Linked DNA regions of Homo sapiens: region 1 is linked to region 2. Evidence: fine-mapped expression QTL. A gene starts in region 2. The other region holds a variant in brackets. All regions are shown on one strand. Distances are from middle to middle. Region 1 overlaps PDS5A (PDS5 cohesin associated factor A). Region 2 holds the start of PDS5A (PDS5 cohesin associated factor A).

Evidence for each region. PIP is the estimated chance that this variant, and not a neighbour inherited with it, causes the effect. A credible set is the group of variants that fine-mapping cannot tell apart.
Region 1: its variant is the best candidate, but not a certain one, in a credible set for the expression of PDS5A in lung (TOPMed, PIP 0.60).

Annotation. Positions count from the first base shown.
Region 1 is chr4:39,889,389-39,899,229 of GRCh38, reverse strand. PDS5A (PDS5 cohesin associated factor A) reads left to right here. Exons shown (of 33, transcript NM_001100399.2): 15 at 405-453; 16 at 702-841; 17 at 8,866-8,981. Among named protein-coding and RNA genes, the nearest start is that of PDS5A, 84 kb to the left of the region's middle. The variant C/T (reference allele first, on the strand shown) is at 4,146.
Region 2 is chr4:39,972,548-39,982,388 of GRCh38, reverse strand. It overlaps PDS5A (PDS5 cohesin associated factor A), which reads left to right and starts at 4,478. Exons shown (of 33, transcript NM_001100399.2): 1 at 4,478-4,932; 2 at 5,772-5,949. The coding sequence starts at 5,812. It also overlaps the pseudogene PABPC1P1. RefSeq lists silencers at 4,254-4,893, 4,944-5,693 and an enhancer at 5,231-6,139.

The DNA of each region.
Region 1 (9,841 bases), 83 kb after region 2:
TGCAGAAAAAAAAGTTTCTTCTCTATATTTTTAGTTAATTTTTTGTGGCATGTAGTTTCATAGTAATTCTGATATGATAAGTTTATATGTTGATTGCTTCATTGATCTTTTTTCAATCTTCTGGCAATGTAACTTTCCTGTGAAAGTTATATACTTGTGGGTTTTTAAGTACCTTCCTCCCAACATCTCCTTTCCTTCTATTTGTCTTAATAGTTGCTACTATGTAATTCTTTGTTGTTAGTTTAGCGTATATATGTGGTAAAACCATTTTCCATTGAGCAGACTGTGATGAACTTTATTTTTTAACGTCATGAAAAATGTACAGTAATGAGTATTGATTTTTGTTAGGGAAATTTGTTAACACATATGACTAGTTGTTCTTTTGTTTCTGTTTTAAATTTCAGTCAGAGGCTAACTGTTCTGCCATGTTTGGAAAACTGATGACCATAGCAAGTGAGTATGTTTATTTACTCACTAAACATGTAGTAAACGTAAATGCAGACAAAGTATTTACCCAGTGGGACTACTGATTTAATGTTAAGTAAAAGAAAATAATCTTTATCTTAATTTTGTTTCTAAGAACCAGCTAGGCTGATTTTCTTTTAGTGGCTCCGCAATATTTTGATGGCACCTGTTTTTAGCTTAGTAGAATAGTTTTTTTTTTTTCCTTCTCTAATATTGATTCTCTTTTAATTTTATAGAGAATTTGCCTGACCCCGGGAAAGCACAAGATTTTGTGAAGAAATTTAACCAGGTTCTCGGCGATGATGAGAAACTTCGGTCTCAGTTGGAGTTATTAATTAGCCCAACCTGTTCTTGCAAACAAGCAGATATTTGTGTGGTTAGTAAATCATACTTCACACTTTTTCTCTAGCTTTACTTACAGAAATATGTATTTTATTAAAGCCTGTTTTACATACAGTGATTTGTGTAAATGTAACAATATTGTGAGCTCTGAATTACTTTGGAGTATATCTATTGTCAAGTTAATTCTCTATTTACCATTCACTCTCAGCCACATTCCAGGAAAATAACTAAAGAACTAAGCCAGGGAGATTGGTCTTAGGAATTTTACAAGATAAAGTACTTTGAACTTAGTAGACATTCATTGAGTAATGATAAGTATTTTCTGAATGCTTGTGTACATGTGCATTTTCTTCTTTCATGTATTAGAATGGAAATAATCGTCAATAAATTAGTAGTAGTAACATTGCCATATATCTGGTTTCATTTACAGATAAAGTAAATTCCTATCTAGACTTTTGTCTTCATTCTTCTCTTGAACTCATTTAAAACCAATATTCTTAAAGCTATCAGGAGGGAAAACTTATGCATTCATTTATTCAGCTTTTTTTTTTTTTTTCCTGAGATAGTCTTGCTTTTGTCACCCAGGCTGGAGTTCAGTGGCACAATCATAGTTCACTACAGCGTTAAAGTCCTGTGCTCATGTGATCCTATACCCCAGCCTTCTGAATAGCTAGAACTATTGGCACACGCATCCACACCCAGCTAAGTTTTTAAATTTTTTGGAGGCCATGCACATTGGCTCACACCTGTAATCCCAGCACCTTGGGAGTCCAAGGCGTGTGGATCACCTGAGGTTGGGAGTTCGAGACCAGCCTAGCCAACTTGGTGAAACCCCATCTCTACTAAAAATACAGAAATTTGCCAGGTGTGGTGGTACATGCCTGTAATCTGAGCTACTCAAGAGGCTGAGACAGGAGAATTGCTTGAACTCGGGAGGTGGAGGTTGTAGTGAGCCGAGATCATGCCACTGCACACCAGCCTGAGTGACAGAATGAGACTGTCTCAAGAAAAGGAAAAAATAAAAATTTTTGTCTCTGTGTTGCCCAGGGTGGTCTCAAACTCCTTCAAGTGATTATCTCACCTCACTGCAACCTCCACCTCCTGGGTTCAGACGATTCTTGTGCCTCAGCCTTCCGAGTAGCTGAGATTACAGGCATGAGCCATCACATCTGGCTAATTTTTTGTATTATTAGTAGAGGTAGGTTTTCACCATGTTGGCCAGGCTGATCTTGAACTCCTTACCTCAGGTGATCCACCCACCTCGGCCTCCCAAAGTGCTGGGGTTACAGGCATGAGCCACACACCCAGGCAAAAGATTCTTGATGTATCTAAAATGGTATACTGCATGACAACATTTTGGCCAAAGATAAGACCACATGTATTTTGGGAGTCCCATAATATTATAACAGAACTCAGGGTGATGGGTGTAGCAAACTACCATGACACATGTATACCTGTGTAACAAACCTGCACATTGTGCACATGTATCCCATAACTTAAAGCATTAAAAAAAAAAAAAGATTATAACGGAACTGAAGGATTCCTATCACCTAGTGACATCTTGGTGATCCTGACCTGGCGTAGGCCTAGGCTATTGTATGTGGTTGTATCTTAGTTTTGCACAAAAAAAAGTTTTAAAACTTTCTTTTTTTTTTTTTAAACAGGGTTTTGCTCTGTCACCCAGACTGGAGTTCAGTGATGTTATCATGGCCCACTGCATCCTCAGCCTCCTGGGTTCACGTGATCCTCTCCCTTCAATCTCCTGAGTAGCTGGGACTATAGGCACATGCCACCATGCCCAGCTAATTTTTTATTTTTTGTAGAGACAGGGTTTCTCCATGTTGTCCAAGCTGGTCTGGAACTCCTGAGCTGAAGAAACCTACCTGCCTCAGCCCCACAAAATATTGGGATTACAGGTGTGAGCCACCACATGCAGCCAAAAAAATTTTTAATAGGAAGAAGCTAGTAGAATAAGGATATAAGGAAAGAAACCATTTTGTGTACAGCTGTACACAAAATGTGTTTTAAGCTAAGTGTTACTACAAAAGAGTCAAAAAGCTAAAAAAAAAAAAAAAAAAGATCAGTACATTGGCTCACACCTGTAATCTCAGCACTTTGGGAGGCCTAGGCAGGAGGATCACTTGAAGCCAGGAATTTGAGACCAACCTGGGCAATATATCAAAACCCCCGCCTCTACAAAACATTAAAGAAAACTAGCTGCACATGGTGGCGCACACCTGTAGTCCTGACTACTCCAGAGGCCAAGATGGGAGGATCACTTGAGCCCAGGATTTTAAGCCTACAGTGAGCTATGGTCACACCACTGCATTCCAGCCTGGGTGACAGAACAAGATCCTGTCTCCAAAAATTTTTTTAAAAGCTAAAAAAAAAAAAAACCGGGCCAGGTGTGGTGGCTCACACCTGTAATCCCAGCACTTTGGGAGGCCGAGGTTGGCAGATCATGAGGTCGGGAGATCGAGACCATCCTGGCTAACACGGTGAGACCCCGTCTCTACTAAAAATACAAAAAAAAAAAAATTAGCTGAGCATGGTGGCGGGCGCCTGTAGTCCCAGCTACTCTGGAGGCTGAGGCAGGAGAATGGTGTGAACCTGGGAGGCGGAGCTTGTAATGAGCTGAGATCATGCCACTGCACTCCAGCCTGGGCGACAGAGCGAGACTCTGTCTCAAAAACAAACAATCAAACAAAAACAAACCCTTGAAGTTCATCAAGTAAAAATATTACAAAAAGCTAAGGATAATTTATCATTGAAGAAAGAAAAAGTGTTTAAATATCGTGCTGCCTAAGTGTACAGTGTTTATAAAGTCTACAGTAGTGTACTGTAATGTCCTGTTTCTTCACATTCACTCACCACTTACTCACTGACTTACCCAGATCAACTTGCAGTCCTGTAAGCTTCATTTATGGTAAGTGCTCTATATGTAGGTGTACTGTTTTTTATCTTTTATATGGCATTTTTATTATATGGTTTATATTGTGTTTTTATCTTTTATATTTTTACCCTGTGTTTAGATAATGTTCAAATACACAAATACCACTGTGTTACAGTTCCCTACAGTATTTAGCATAGTAACATGCTGTACAATTTTGTAGCATAGAAGTAGTACGCTATACCATTTAGGTTTGTGTGCGTGCACTCTAATGTTCACATGATGAAATTGCCTTAACAACACATTTCTCTTTTTTTTTTTTTTTTTTTTTTTGAGACGGAGTCTCACTGTCGCCCAAGCTGGAGTGCAGTGGCGCGATCTTGGCTCACTGCGTTCTCTTGCCTCAGCCTCCCGAGTAGCTGGGACTACAGGCTCCTGCCACCTCGCC[C/T]GGCTAATTTTTTGTATTTTTAGTAGAGACGCGGTTTCACCATGTTAGCCAGGATGATCTCGATCTCCTGACCTCGTGATCCGCCCGCCTCGGCCTCCCAAAGTGCTGGGATTACAGGTGTGAGCCACCGTGCCTGGCCAACAACACATTTCTCAAAATCTGTCTCCACCATTGAGTGATGGATAATTCTTTGTGTGTGTGGGCAGGGGGAGGGTATGTATTTCTCTGTATAAGGGCCCTGCACTGCCCTATTGGATTTAAATAAATAATCCTTCTCACAATGTTAGACATAAACGTCAAGTACTATGCTTGGGACCAGGCTTATAGAGACAAATAAGAGAAATGTAATTTCAATTACATATGTCTAACTTTGTTCTAGAAGGGATTAGAGTTGATGGTTTTAAAATAACTTATAAAGGATAAGGACTATAATAGATGTATATGTGGAGAGGTCTAGCTGCATAGAACATGTATCTTTTATTCAGCATAGAGATCTGAATACCATTACAAATACCAATAATTAGGAGGACATGGGGAGGAAAACCAATTTAGGGAAGAGAAGAGTGGGCTTGTCTCTCAGGGCTATGAATGTGGATGTGCCAAATGCCCAGACAACCTCAACCTTTGCACTTCTTTTTTAAATTTTATTTACTTACTTATTTTTTTCTTTTTTTTTTGAGATAGGGTCTTGCTCTGTCACCCAGGCTGGAGTGTAATGACACAATCTCAGCTCACCGTAACCTCTGCATCTAGGGCTCAAATGATCCTCCTGCCTCAGCCTCCCAAGTAGCTGGGATTACAGGCATGCGCCATCATGCCTGACTAATTTTTGTATTTTTAGTAGAGATGAGATTTCACCATGTTGCCCAGGCTGGTCTTGAACTCTTGGACTCAAGTGATCCTACCCACCTTGGCCTCCCAAAGTAGTGGGATTACAGGCATGATCCACCATGCCCAATAAGCTTTGTACTTCTGAGCTGAGTAATTTGCTGAAAACGCTTAAAAGTTTCATTGACTTCTTTGGCATTTAGAATTCTAGTTCCAGAGTACTGTGTCCTGCAGAGAATCTACTATTATAATTAGATCAGACAATGAAATAGCTTGAAAAGGCTGGGCGCGGTGGCTCACTGTTGTAATCCCAACACTGTGACTGCAACAGCCACACAGTATAGCCAATCAGTGCTCTTGATATTAGGAACCAGTGAGGTAGAAATGAATACTGCACTTGCAGTGGTAAGAGCATGAGTTCATTATACCTTCTTTCCTAGCTCTTATATTAGCATTGTGTGACTTGAGTATGTTATTTAACTATGTGTTCTCATACGTAAAGTGGGACTTAGAATACCTCCCTTAGGCACACATGAAAACAAACCTCTGCTAGAGTACCTTTATGAGTTTGTCCTTTCCCCTATGGGCTACTGAATATTATTTACATATTTCCTCTAATATCCCCATTCCTTTTCTGATGTAGAAGAATAAAGAAAAATAATGCAAATGTAAAATTTAGTTTCTCTCATTCTATGTAGCTTGCATTCCATCCTTGAGAGTTCCTTCTCTGTACCCTAATGCGTATTTGTCACTACCTCCTTATTTTCATATCTCACTTCTCAAGAGGTAGATATTACTTGATACGAGAGTTAGTAGGCATAGAAATCTAATATTTTCTTCCCTCTTTGTCCAAGTTCCATTTCTGAAAAATCTTAGCAAACATACTTTGAGCAAAGATTATCAAAAGAGACGTGTATTTGTGTGTGGGGTGGGGGATATAATGAATGAGAGTGAGCAGTGGAATTGAAATGTGATATATAGATTTACTTTCCCTTTAGAATTCAGGTTTTAGGTTTCTACACCTTGACCCTAGAGAAGGACCACATACTTGCCATAGCTTCAGCTGTGCGTCATAGTTTATGCTCCATTGCCCCCCTCCCCATGAGAGTGGTCCCCAAATTTTAATATTTTCCAGGAAGCTTGTTTATTTGACATTTAATGAAACAGTCCTTGGTTTGAATATCGTTTACTACCAGTATGACCTTTAGTAAGTTACTCAGTATTTTCAAGCCTCCTTATTCATTTTCTTCACCTATAAATATTATCAACCTCATAGAATTTTTAAAAGAATAATGTAAAATGAAATTTTATATGTGGCCTAATGCAGGGCCCCCCTGCACTGCCTACAGGGTTTCAATAAATGGTCATTTTTATAGGTCTTACCCTTACAAAGAGTAGGCATCTTTAAAATAGGTTATGATGTAGCATCATGAATCTCTCCATCTTTTAACCAAGTTTCAACATGAGTGGTTTATGGACTACACTTTTAAAAACCCTCCTCTACCTAGTTACCTGGATATGCATTATATCTTCAGAAGTCCAAATATCTTCTTTCTTGATCAAGCACACACTGTTATAATTCACTGCATGATTAAATAAATTTTATAATACATGGTTTCTCATGGAGCTTGCAGAATAAGTGACAGAGGCTGACAAATATTTCCATTGAATTGTGTGCTTTGGTAAAATAAAGAAGCATTACTCATTCCAGGCAGGGGTGGAAATAGGTCCAGGAATGGCTTCTTCTAGAATAAGTGACTCCTAAGTTGAGTCTTAAAGGATGAATAGGAATTAGACCATTGTGTGAAGAATGACTGCTATATTTTCAGTTTGGCTGACTGGATATCAGAGGAGATGCTTTAGGGAAGAAGATAGCGTCTTTGCAGTTGTGTTCAGAAGTGTTGGGATTCAGGCCTGGTTCTATATATTAGCACAATTACATCACTTGGAGGAGGTAGAGAAGAAATGAAAGAGAAGACAAATCTGAGAATGGCCTCTGAGAATGGTCAGGCTGGTCTCAAAACTCCTGACCTCAAACGATCCGTCACCTCGGCCTCCCAAAGTGCTGGGATTATAGGCATGAGCCACTGCACCCGGCCTAATACCATAATCTTTGAGCTTAAATGGATAGTTAACTTTTTTTTGTTTTTTGTTTTTTGTTTTGAGACAGAGTCTGTGCAGCTGTGCAATCTCAGGTGGTCACTGCAACCTCTGCCTACCAGGCTCAAGTGATCCCCCCCACCTCAGCCTCCTGAGTAGCTGGGACCCCAGGCATGCACCATCACGCCTGGCTAATTTTTTGTATTTTTTGGTAGAAACAGGGTTTTGCCATGTTTTCCAGACTGGTGTCAAACTCTTGAGCTCAGGCAATCCACCTGCCTTGGCCTCCCAAAGTGCTTTGATTACAGGCATGAGCCACTGCTCCTGGCTGAGAGTTACTTTTATTATTGGGGTTATCTATCAGCCTTCCATAACTGTATGTCTAACTTATAAATAAAATTCTAAGGGTGTACAGAGTTCTCATTTATCCTCCACCTATGTTCTTCCAGAACTGAAAAATTTTGCAAGTATATATATATATATGTACGAATATGTGTTTCTGTTTCTTTTGAGATGGAGTTGCTCTTGTTCCCCAGGCTGGAGTGCAATGGCACGATCTCAGCTCACCGCAGCCTCCGCCTCCCAGGTTCAAGCAATTCTCCTGCCTCAGCCTCCCGAGTAGCTGGGATTACAGGCATGCGCCACCAAGCCCGGCTGATTTTGTATTTTTAATAGAGATGGGGTTTCTCCATGTTGGTCAGGCTGGTCTCGAACTCCTGACCTCAGGTGATCCGCCCGCCTCAGCCTCCCAAAGTGCTGGGATTACAGGCGTGAGCCACCTGCGCCCGGCCTGAATATGTATTTTTTAAGAAACAAATTAACTGGCCAGGCACAGTGGCTCATGCCTATAATCCCAGCATTTTGGGAGGCCGAGGCGGGTTGGATCACCTGAGTTCGGGAGTTCGAGACCAGCCTGGCCAACATGACGAAACCCCATGTCTACTAAAAATATAAAATTAGCCGGGCATGGTGGCGTGCATGTTTAAACCCAGCTGCTATGGAGGCTGAGGCAGGAGAGTTGTTTGAACCTGGGAAGCGGAGGTTGCAGTGAGCCAAGATTGCACCATTGCATTCCAGCCTGAGTGACTGACAGAGCGAGACTCCAGCTCAAAAAAAAAAATAACTGAAACAAAACACAATGTTCTGTCAAATTATGAAATAATTAAAACCAATAAAGCATACCCATAAAAGTACAAATTGTTTTTATTCTAAATTAGAGTATTAAAAAGGTTGCCATAGTCCAGGTGTGTGGTGGCTCACGCCTGTAATCCCAGCACTTTGGGAGGTCGAGGCAGGTGGATCACTTGAGGTCAGGAGTTCAAGACCAGCCTGGCCAACATGGTGAAGCCCCGTCTCTACAAAAATAACAAAAATTAGCTGGGCATGGAGGCACGTGCCTGTAATCCCAGCTACTCTGGAGCCTGAGGCAGGAGAATCATTTGAACCCAGGAGGTGGAGGTTGCAGTGAGCCGAGATCGTGCCACTGCACTGTAGCCTGGTGACAGAGTTAGACTCGTCTCAAAAAAAAAAAAGTTGCTATATCAACCAATAATTTCATCAAAGAATTGTGAGGCAAGGCTGTGTTCACTCAGAAACCACATCATCCACTTCTTTTCTCTGCTGTCCAGATTTTTCAGTCATTGCTCGGGGTGTAAAAATTTTAGTCAGGGTCTAGAGCAGACAATTCTTAACCACTTATGCTGGTTTTGAATATTTCAGTTCCTTAGTCATTTTTCTTTTCAAAAATATGAAAGCAAATCACGTTTTTGGTAAAACTCCTTTCTTTCTATAGAGAGAAATAGCCCGGAAACTTGCAAATCCTAAGCAACCAACAAATCCTTTTCTAGAGATGGTCAAATTTCTGTTGGAAAGAATCGCACCTGTGCACATTGATTCAGAAGCCATAAGGTAAGCCAAGAAGTATATTCGCTCAAAAATAAATAATAATCTGCAACGACAATGTTGTTAATTTAAATTCTGGGCTCCTAAAGATACCTGAAAACCTCTGTATGTCTCTTTTTAATCACAGGGTTGTACATCATTCAAGTTGAAGGGAAAGCCTTCTCATTTTATGATCTTTGGCTTTATATAATGCTTTCTGTTTTTAAAGAGTTCTTATGTTTATTTTTAGCTTATGCGTTCTCATTAAAGAAAACTTAGAACAAAGAGAAAGACAGAAAAAGGAATATTTTAGATCTGTGTGGCTGTTGACCAACCTCTGAGTTTTCTTAAGCATTTTAATGGCCCTGTAATATTCTGTAGTACATATTATACCACTGTTCATTTGATGTGTGAGAACAGAATGGTATGTTGGAAAGAGGAGAGGATTATCTTTAGGCAAATTTGGTTTCAAAACATAAGTCTACTTTGTGGCTTTGGATTGTCTTTGAATTTTCATTTATTTTCAACTTTAATATGGGCATAAAATCTTGTTGGATGATTATGTTAATTTGAGGTAATATATAAAAGGTAAGCAGCCTGGCATCATAGACATTAGTTAAGAGCTATTGATTTTTTATTACGTATTCTCATGATTTCAGACTTTTCAAACGTCTGGTAATGCTTTTCTCTTGCACCAATCATTTTTCCAGTAGATAAGCTATATATCTTTCCATATTCAGTTACTATGCAGCACTTGTTGGTTCTTTTTCCAAACAGCCTAGAATTCAGAGATCAGTTCCAGTACCCAAGCTTCGCTGTTTATTTCACCTTAGGTGAATCACTGATGTGGCTGTATTGAAATGCTGATTATATTCATTTGCTAGGGC
Region 2 (9,841 bases):
GGTGCAATTTCGGCTCACTGCAACCCCTGCTTCCCAGAGTCAGGCAATTCTGATGCCTCAGCCTCCCAAGTAGCTAGGACTACAGGTGTGCGCCACCCCACCAGGCTAATTTTTGCATATATATATATATGCAAATATATATATATATATTAGTAGAGATGAGGTTTTGCCATGTTGGTCAGGAGCTCTAGAATTTGTATATAGAAGGAGCTGTAGTGAAATTGGGGGTTAGGGGTTTGTCCTCAAATTGCATTGGACGCAATTTTGTACATAGATTATATAACTGAATGTATGTGTGAGGGGGACACTGATTGAAATTATGTGGGAGGTAGAATAAAGACTCACAAAGCCACCCCTTTGTGCAATTATTAACCACATAAAACTCTTTGATTTTTTTATTTTATTTTATTAAAAAAAATTATGTAGAGCTTAGTATATGCGAGTTACTATTCTAGGCATTTTACAAATATTAACTTATGGCCAGGCGCAGGGGCTCACACCTGTAATCTTAGCACTTTGGGAGGCCAAGGCGGGCGGATCACCTGAGGTCGGGAGTTCAAGAGCAGCCTGGCCAACATGGTGAAATCCCATCACACTAAAAATACAAAAAATTGCTGGGCATGGTGGTGCGTGCCTGTAATCACAGCTACTAGGGAAGCTGAGGCAAGAGAATCACTTGAACCTGGGAGGCAGAGGTTGCAGTGAGCCGAGACTGCAACACTGCACTCCAGCCTGGGCGACAGAAAAAAAAATTAAGTTATGTATTCCTCATAATGATCATGTGAGGAAGATACTATCATTATCCTTGTTTTACAGATGAAGAAAATGAGGCACAGAAGAATTAAGTGGTTTGACCAACATTGCCTAACTCAGGACATACATCATATCACCTCTTTGCTTAAAACAGTCCATTAGTTCCCCACCTCAATCAGAGGATAGCCACAGTCTTACCAGAGGTCTAAAAGGCTACATGTGATCTGTACTCTCTCTCACTCCAGGGAGTCTCACTCTGTCGCCCAGGCTGGAGTGCAGTGGTGCTTTCTCAGCTCGCTGCAACCTCCATCTCCCCGGTTCAAACGATTCTCCTGCCTCAGCCTTCTTAGTAGCTGGGATTACAGACATGTGCCAGTGCGCCTGCCTAATTTTTGTATTTTTAGTGGAGACAGGGTTTCACCATGTTGGTCAGGCTGGTCTGGAACTCCTGACCTCAGGTGATCCACCCACCTCGGCTTCCCAAAGTGCTGGGATTACAGTCCTGAGCCACCGTGCCTGAGCCACTGAGTCTAATTTTTTGTCTTTTTAATAGAGATGGGGTTTCACCATGCTGGCCAGGCTGGTCTGAAACTCGTGACCTCAAATAGTCTGCCTGCCTCCCCCTCCCAAAGTGCTGGGATTACAGGTGCGAGCCACCGTGCCCAACTCTTCCCTACTTTATTTTCATATACATGTATTATTGTTATTTTGGTCTATTTCTCCCCAAACAAATTAAGGTCCACCAGGAGGGCAGGCCTTCATTTGTGAAACAATTATTTAAAGAGGCCTATAATATAAGGCATTGTTTTGGGCACTGAGCGGGGAAGAAAAGCTTGGTGGAGGTTGGGTGCAGTGGCTCATGCCTGTAATTCCAGCACTTTGGGAGCCCAAGGTGGGTGGATCACCTAAGGTCAAGAGTTCGAGACCAGGCTGGCCAACATGGTAAAACCCTGTCTCTACTAAAAGTACAAAAATTAGCCAGGCGTGGTGGCGCATGCCTGTAGTCCCAGATCTTGGGAGGCTGACGCAGGAGATCTGCTTGAACCCAGGAGGCGTAGGTTGCAGTGCGCCCAGATTGTACCACTGCACTCCAGCCTGGGCAACAGAGCAAGACTTCGTCTCGAAAAAATAAAATAGGCCAGGCGCAGGGGCTCACACCTGTAATCCCAGCACTTTGGGAGGCCGAGGCGGGCAAATCACGAGGTCAGGAATTCGAGATCAGCCTGGCCAATATGGTGAAACTCCATCTCTACTAAAAATATAAAAATAAGCTGGGCGTGGTGGTGTACGCCTGTAGTCCCAGCTACTTGGGAGACTGAGGCAGATGAATCGCTTGAACCTGGGAGGCAGAGGTGAAGTGAACCGAGATCGCACCACTGCACTCAAGCCTGGTGATAGAGTGAGACTCCATGTTAAAAAAAAAAAAAAAGAAATCAACCAGTAAGGCCAGGCACGGTGGCTCAAGCCTGTAATCCCAGCACTTTGGGAGGGTGAGGCGGGCAGATTACCTGAGGTCAGGAGTTTGAGACCAGCCTGACCAACATGGTGAAACCCTGTCTCTACTAAAAATAACAAAAATTAGCCGGGCATAGTGGCGGGCGCCTGTAATCCCAGCTACTTGGGAGGGTGAGGCAGGAGAATTGCTTGAACCCAGAAGTCAGAGGTTGTAGTGAGCCAAGATCACACCACCACACTCCAGCCTGGGCGACAGAGGGAGACTCTGTCTCAAAAAAAAATTAGCCCGGTATGGTGGCACACACCTGTAGTCCCAACTACTTGGGGGCCTGAGGCACAAAAGTCGCTTGAACCTGGGAGGCGGATGCTGTAGTGAGCCGAGATCATGCCACTGCACTGCAGTCTGGGCGACAAAGTGAGACTTCATCTCAAAAAATAATAAAATAATATAAAAAATAAATAAAATAAAATATATGTACATATACAAAACTCCATTTAATAATGGGCAAGCTACTGAGGAGGATGAAAGATAAAATCATTGTTGTTTAATTAAATGTAACACACAAAGAAATATCAAATTTGGCCGGGCGCGGTGGCTCATGCCTGTAATCCCAGCACTCTGGGAGGCCGAGGCGGGCGGATCACTAGCTCAGGAGATCGAGACCATCCTGGCTAACATGGTGAAACCCCGTCTCTACTAAAAATACAAAAAAAAAAAATTAGCCGGGCGTGGTGGCGGGCGCCTGTAGTCCCAGCTACTCGGAAGACTGAGGCAGGAGAATGGCGTGAACCCGGGAGGCAGAGCTTGCAGTGAGCCGATATCACGCCACTGCACTCCAGCCTGGGTGACAGAGTAAGATTCCGTCTCAAAAGAAAAAAATAAATATCAAAAGTGACAGGGAGAGCCTAAAAAGAGAGCAGCTTTTGGTCCACTTAATAGTTTGGATGAGGACACTTTTAAATGGATTCTGCCTGGTACTGTAAATGCCCAAGAACAAAGCATTGACTTTTGGGCAGAGTTCTAGCAAATCAGCAACTGTGGAGTGTCAGATTCGCAATGACTGCTCTTGTGTAATACGTCAAAAACAAGTCAGTGAGCTGAAATGCAGTACCTTTACTATTTTTAAGTTGACGTTAAAGGATGTGGGAAAAAAATAGACCAATGGGTACCCATCAAGAATAATTTGAATAAACAATCGAATATCATTTTAAACTATGGTAGTGGTCAGTTTCAAGAGCTGAATGTGATTTCATATTATCGTATCCTTTTTTCAACTTTCTCTTCGGAAATTTTGTGTATGCTCTTGATTTTTTTTAAATAGGTAAGTGTATGTTCTTGCGTTAATTTGTTTCAATTACATACATTAAATTGCTCAAACACTGCTGCGTGCACTGTTTTTACCTGATAGTGGTTTTCCTTTGGATGACAGAAAACGTTAATGCTTGGTAGGTTTAAAACATTTTTAAAAAATGAGCTCTTCCTTATTTACAAGAATCACCCACCCAATTAATAAATGCTTATTTCTGGGTTCCACTCTCAGAGATTTTTATGTTTATGTATATTTTTATATTTTTTAGTGTTTTATTTTATATGTTATATTTTTATATGTTTTATGTTCATATATATTTTTACGTTAAAAAAACATATATTTTTATGTTTTTTAATCTTTGGAGTTGGAAACCTACGTTTTCAGCCAGTACCCAAAGTGATTGTGAGGCCTGGTGGCCCAAAGACCATACCTTGAGAACGACTCGACCCAATGCTATTTTCATGTTTTGCAGCTTTCAAAATATTAACTTCAGAAATCTAAGGAGGGTGGGCAACTCGGGTGGCTGTCAGAAGACCCGAGAGTGAGCCGCTCACGCTGCGCCCCATTGCACAACTTTCCTTGACTTTGCAGATCTCTCCCTGAGGAGGAAATCAGTTCATTTTCACCGAGCAATTAACTACCTCCCAACCAGTTTCGTCTATGTCCCTCAGGATGACCCCCAAAAGTCACCAGCTCATCGCCGCTGCGAAAGATAAAGCACTGTTTGCCCTGCGTGCCCTCGCAAGGCCGCGGGAACCTGGGCTCGCTTCCCGCCACCCGGGCTCCTCCTCCTCTCGCCCTCTCCGGTCGGGTCCTCCGGGAGGCGCCCCGCGCGGCAGGTATTGGCGCCAACCGGGTGGCGGCGCTGTCCGCCCTGCGCGCGGCCGCCTCGGGCCCGAGGGAGGCGGATGCACGGCCGGCGGAGGAAGGGGAGGGAGCGAGGAGCGCGCGCTGCTCTCGCGTGCTCTCGCGCCGCTCGCGTGACCGGCCGGTGTGTGCGCGAGGCCCCGGCTCCCGGGGCACGGACGGCCGGGCGCGCGCCTCTGCGAGGGGCGTCCGGGTCCGAGTCGGCGGTCCGGGCCGGCGCGAGGTGCGTGCGGGCGGGCCGCGGGGGTCCCGGACGGACACAAGCGCACACACTCCCGGAGGAGCCTTCGAGGCTGCTCTTCCTCGGCCAGACGGAGAGCGGCACTGTCTCCCCGCCCAGCGCTCACTCGCCCCGCGTCTCCCCCCGCGGCGGCTGCTCCTCCTCGGCACCGCCAGCCCCAGCGCCGCTCCCGGGCGGGCGGGCGGCGGCGGCGGCGGCGGCGGGACCCGCGGAGCCGCTTTGTGTGCAGCCCGACTAGGGGCGGCGGCGCAACCACCTGACAGAGGCCCGGGCGCTCGATGCACCTTCCGCCCGCATGAGGAGGAGGTAAAGGCGGCGGCGGCTCGGCTCCCGCCCTAGGCTGCTGGAGGGAGGGGACGGAAGGGGAGACTGGAGGGGGGGGCCGCGGGTCCGAGGCCCGGTGGGGCCGCCCGAGGGTGCCGGGAAGGCCTCGGCGGTGCCGGAGGCGCCAAGCGGCCGGGGGCCAGAGAAGCAGCTGGGGTCCCTCAGCCGAAGTTGAAGGAACAAAATGTGAAGTGCGGAGGCGCGTCAGCCGCTTCCTGGCGTGGGGCTGAGGGTGGAGGGCGGCTTGTTTTCCCCTCCCGCGGGGGTGAGGGAGCGGAACAGGGGAGGGGTGGCAGCGCGGCGGGGACTACCCCGGGTCCGAGGCTCGGCTGGGCAAGGGCGTTTTGTTCCCGGCAGCCGCCGCTGCGCGTGGGTCCGCTGGGTCCCTAGTTTTGCGGCCTAAGCCGAGCCCTATAGGCCTCGGGTCTGGTTTCCCGGAGGGGACTGGCCGGGCGGGACTGGGTGCTTCCCCACCGCCGAGCGGGGGCCTTGGGGTCCTTGCCGGCCTCCCGGGGCCGCCAAACTTCGGACCCTGGTGCTCGGGGGTGGATTTCATTGTGAAAGGCGGAATGGGAAACTCCTGGCGCTGTTCGGCGGCCACGGCGGCTGGTGCGGAGGAGCCCCGTGAGCCTGGGGCTGGCAGGGCCGGGTTGGCGGGGCCGGCGGGGTTCGATCCCTGGGAAAGAGCGGGTGGCGAGGCCGCTGCCGGGTCCCCGGCCTCTGGGGAGACAGGGCCTTTTCCAGATTAGAGAGATTTGAAATGAAAAAAGAGGTTACAAAGTCGCCCCTTTCCCGCTGAACTTTGGTTTTCTGACCGATAGAGGCCGGTAGAGGACTGTGAACCAAAAGTTGTCCCCCAGGATGGACTTCACCGCGCAGCCCAAGCCTGCCACTGCCCTCTGTGGCGTCGTGAGTGCCGACGGGAAGATCGCTTACCCTCCGGGGGTAAAAGAGATCACCGACAAGATCACCACGGACGAGATGATCAAACGCCTGAAGGTAAGTGTCTGGACGGATTTTGATGTCTTTGGTAGAAGGCGCTTTCTCCTGTGATACTGCTACCCTGCTCAGTCTGGCCTTTAAAGTTCCAAGTTTTTTAGATCTCTTACCCCCTCTGAAAGGTACTGTTGTATCTCAGATAACATCTTTGAGTGAGTTTTGTAGGGATATAACCATTGTGGGAAATTTAAAAGGAGTGTGATTTTTCAAAAACTTACTGGTTTTCAAGCATAAGAATTTGTGTTTTTAGAGTTTTTTCTGGAGGTATTTAATGAGAATACTGTTCAGAGTGGCTTGCAAACTTAGGTGTAGGCAGTAATTTGCCTAAGAAGTTTACTATTTTCAGCTTCTGAAGGGGATTGATTAAAGCGCAAAGTCCTTTTTAAAAATTTGCATAATTTTCTATATCCAGAAGCTTAAATATGTATATATGGTGGTTAAACTTTGACAGAAGGTACAGACTTTTCATAATTCAGGCTTAAAGTAAGATGATTTAAGTCTATACGTTCAAAGGAGTTTAAGAGTATTATGGCCCTTTTTATGAGGTGTCAGCTAATTTTGTTTAAGCATGGCAGTCCTAAGGTTAAGGTTTTAAATTTCAACCTCATGTTTGTTAGTTTTTTTGGTTTCTGTTCCACTGACATAGATTGTGGCCAGAATCTTAACAAATAAGTAATATTCTTCTTGTAGGAACAGCTTGAAGCAGTGGTTCTGAGTCAGGGCAACTTTGACCTCCAGGAGATGTTTGGCAATGCTGGAGACATTTTGGTTGTCACAATTGGTGCTAGATTGGAGTAGGGGAAGACCAGAGGCAGTGAGTCCGGCTAGGAAACTGTAAACAGTAGTCTAGGTGAAAGACGTTGAAATCTTCAGGTAGGGCTATGGCATTGGTAATAGTGACTAGGAAATGATTTAACAACTTTTCAGAGTTAGAATCAATCAGAATTGGTGGGAGGTGAGGGAAGCAACATTGTTGACAATGTTTCCACCTTGGGCCACTTGGCCAAATGTATTTTAGGGAATGAGCTTGGCCTCTTGCTCTTGGAGCCCAGTAAATGTACCTAATGTTGCATTTTAATGAGTACAGTATTTAAAATATTCCTGTGGTTTAGTTTTCAGACTCTTAATTTGGTTCTGCAATTTGTTGCCTTTTTGGAAGGAATAAGACAACAGTTCCTTTCATTAAAACAAATCTGTGTGCGGCGGCGGGATCTCAGCTCACTGCAACCTCCACTTCCCAGGTTCAAGCTATTCTGCCTCAGCCTCCCAAGTAGCTGGGACTACCAGCGTGTGCCACCACACCCGGCTAAATTTTTTTTTTTTTTTTTTTTTTGAGACGGAGTCTTGCTCTGTCACCTAGGCTGGAGTGCAGTGGCGCGTCTCGGCCCACTGCAACCTCCACCTCCCGGGTTCAAGCAATTCTGCCTCAGCCTCTCTAGTAGCTGGGATTACAGGTGCCTGCCACCACGCCCAGCTAATTTTTGTATTTTTAGTAGAGATGGGATTTCACTATGTTGGTCACTTTGGTCTCGATCTCCTGACTTCGAATGATCTGCCTGCATCGGCCTCCCAATATGCTGCGATTACAGGTGTGAGCCACTGCTCCCAGCCCCTTTCATTAAAACAAATCTTGGGCCTGGTGTGGTGGCTCCAGCCTGTAATCCCAGCACTTCGGGAGGCCGAGGCAGGCAAATCACCCGAGGTCTGGAGTTCTACTAAAAATACAAAATTAGCTGGGCGTGGTGGCGCATACCTGTAATCCTAGCTACTGGGAGGCTGAGGCAGGAGAATCGCTTGAACCCGGGAGGCGGAAGTTTTGATGAGCGGAGATCGCGCCATTGCACTCCAGCCTGGGCAACAGGAGTGAAACTTCATCTCAAAAAAGTAAAATAAAATAAATAAAGCAAATATTGATACTAAAGATTATACATGAATTGAGCTGCTTGATTGATGCTTCTAAAAGTTACACTGTTTTGGGAGTGAGAAATTATGAAATATAAAACTTAAACAATTGATGGATCGTTAATATTTATTGTTTTCAAATTAAGAATATTGAAACCTTGAATTCTAATGTTGGATAATTTGGTTAAAAAATGGAAAGTTGATGTGTTAGCAACCGCTCTGTTGACATGACTCATGGAACCTGTGAAGAAGCTGGTCTCATAGTATTAAGTGGTGGTATAGGAGCAGCTTGGGGATAGCACCTGGCATATTGGAATGGATGAGGTCTGGCACCCTGAGCAGTCCAGCGAGGACTTGGTCTCAGTAGAGCAGTTTGGCTAGGAGGAGAGTATGCAGCACGGTTTTTATTTATTTTTGAGACAGAGTCTCGCTCTGTCGCCCAGGCTGGAGTGGGTGCGATCTCGGCTCACTGTAAGCTCCGCCTCCCGGGTTCACGCCATTCTCCTGCCTCAGCCTCCCGAGTAGCTGGGACCACGGGCGCCCGCCATCATGCCCGGCTAATTTTTTGTATTTTTTTAGTAGAGACGGGTTTCACCGTGTTAGCCAGGATGGTCTCGATCTCCTGACCTCGTGATCTGCCCCTCTTGGCCTCCCAAAGTGCTGGGATTACAGGCGTGAGCCACCGCGCCCGGTCTTGCAGCACGGTTCTGAGTCTGTGGAATAGCTGCCATGAAGTAACCTGAAGGAGGTGCTGGCTGGTAGGGGTTGATTACATGGTTGGGCACAGCTCGTACACTTGCCATTCTCTGCATATGCTGGTTAGTGAAGTGAGCCTGGCACTCTTCTTTGCGCTGAGCTAAAGCTACATACGATGGTTTTGTGGCCACAGTTCTACCGTTCATTTCTGTAACTGCTTTAGTGGCTTCTTCCGGGAAGGAGAAACATACGAAACCAAACCCTTTGCTGTGACCACCCTCCATCATAGCCTTTGCACTAGTGATTGTACCAAATGGAGAAAACTCTTTCTGGAGACGTTCATCATCAATACTATCATCAAGATTTTTCACGTAAATATTAACACCCTGGTATCTGCTGGCTGCAGCTACTCCTGCTGTCCACACCGTTCCACAGTATAAATATGCTGCGGGAGTTCGCAATCCTCAGCAACATCTTAATGCACAGCCACAAGTTACAATGCAACAGCCTGCTGTTCATGTACAAGGTCAGGAACCTTTGACTGCTTCCATGTTGGCATCTGCCCCTCAAGAGCAAAAGCAAATGTTCATATGCTCGAGAGTCCAGAGTCACTCTGTTCTAAGGTTCATGAAGCTAGCTATATTACAAGCCCACCAAGCTAAAGAGGCTACCCAGAAAGCAGTTAACAGTGCCATTGGTGTTCCTGCTGTTTAAAATTGATCAGAGACCACGAAAAGAAACTTGTGCTTCACCAAAGAAAAATATCTAAACATCGAAAAACTTAAATATGGAAAAAAAAATTGCAAAATATAAAATAAATTTAAAAAGGAAAGGAAACTTTGAACATTATGTACCGAGCAAATGCCAGGTCTAGCAAACATAATATTAGTCCTAGATTACTTATTGATTTAAAAACAAACAACAAAAAAAACCCCACAAAAAATAATAAAATATAAAGACAAATTAATGTTTTATAGATCCTGGGAAAAATAATTTTCAGCAAAGTACAAAAATTTAAAGCATTCCTTGTAATCTTTACTGTGGAATAGCTCAAAATATCAGTTCTGTTTTAAGTAACAGAATTGATAACTGAGCAAGGAAGCGTAATTTGGATTATAAAATTCTTTTTTTAATAAAAAATTCCTTAAACAGTGAAAAAAAAAAAAAGGAAAGTTGTGGTTGGGTACAGGGGCTCATGCCTGTAATCCCAGCATTTTGAGGGCTGAGGCAGGAGGATCATTTGAGCCCAGGAGGTTCAGACCTGGGCAACATAGACCCTGTCTCAATTTTATTT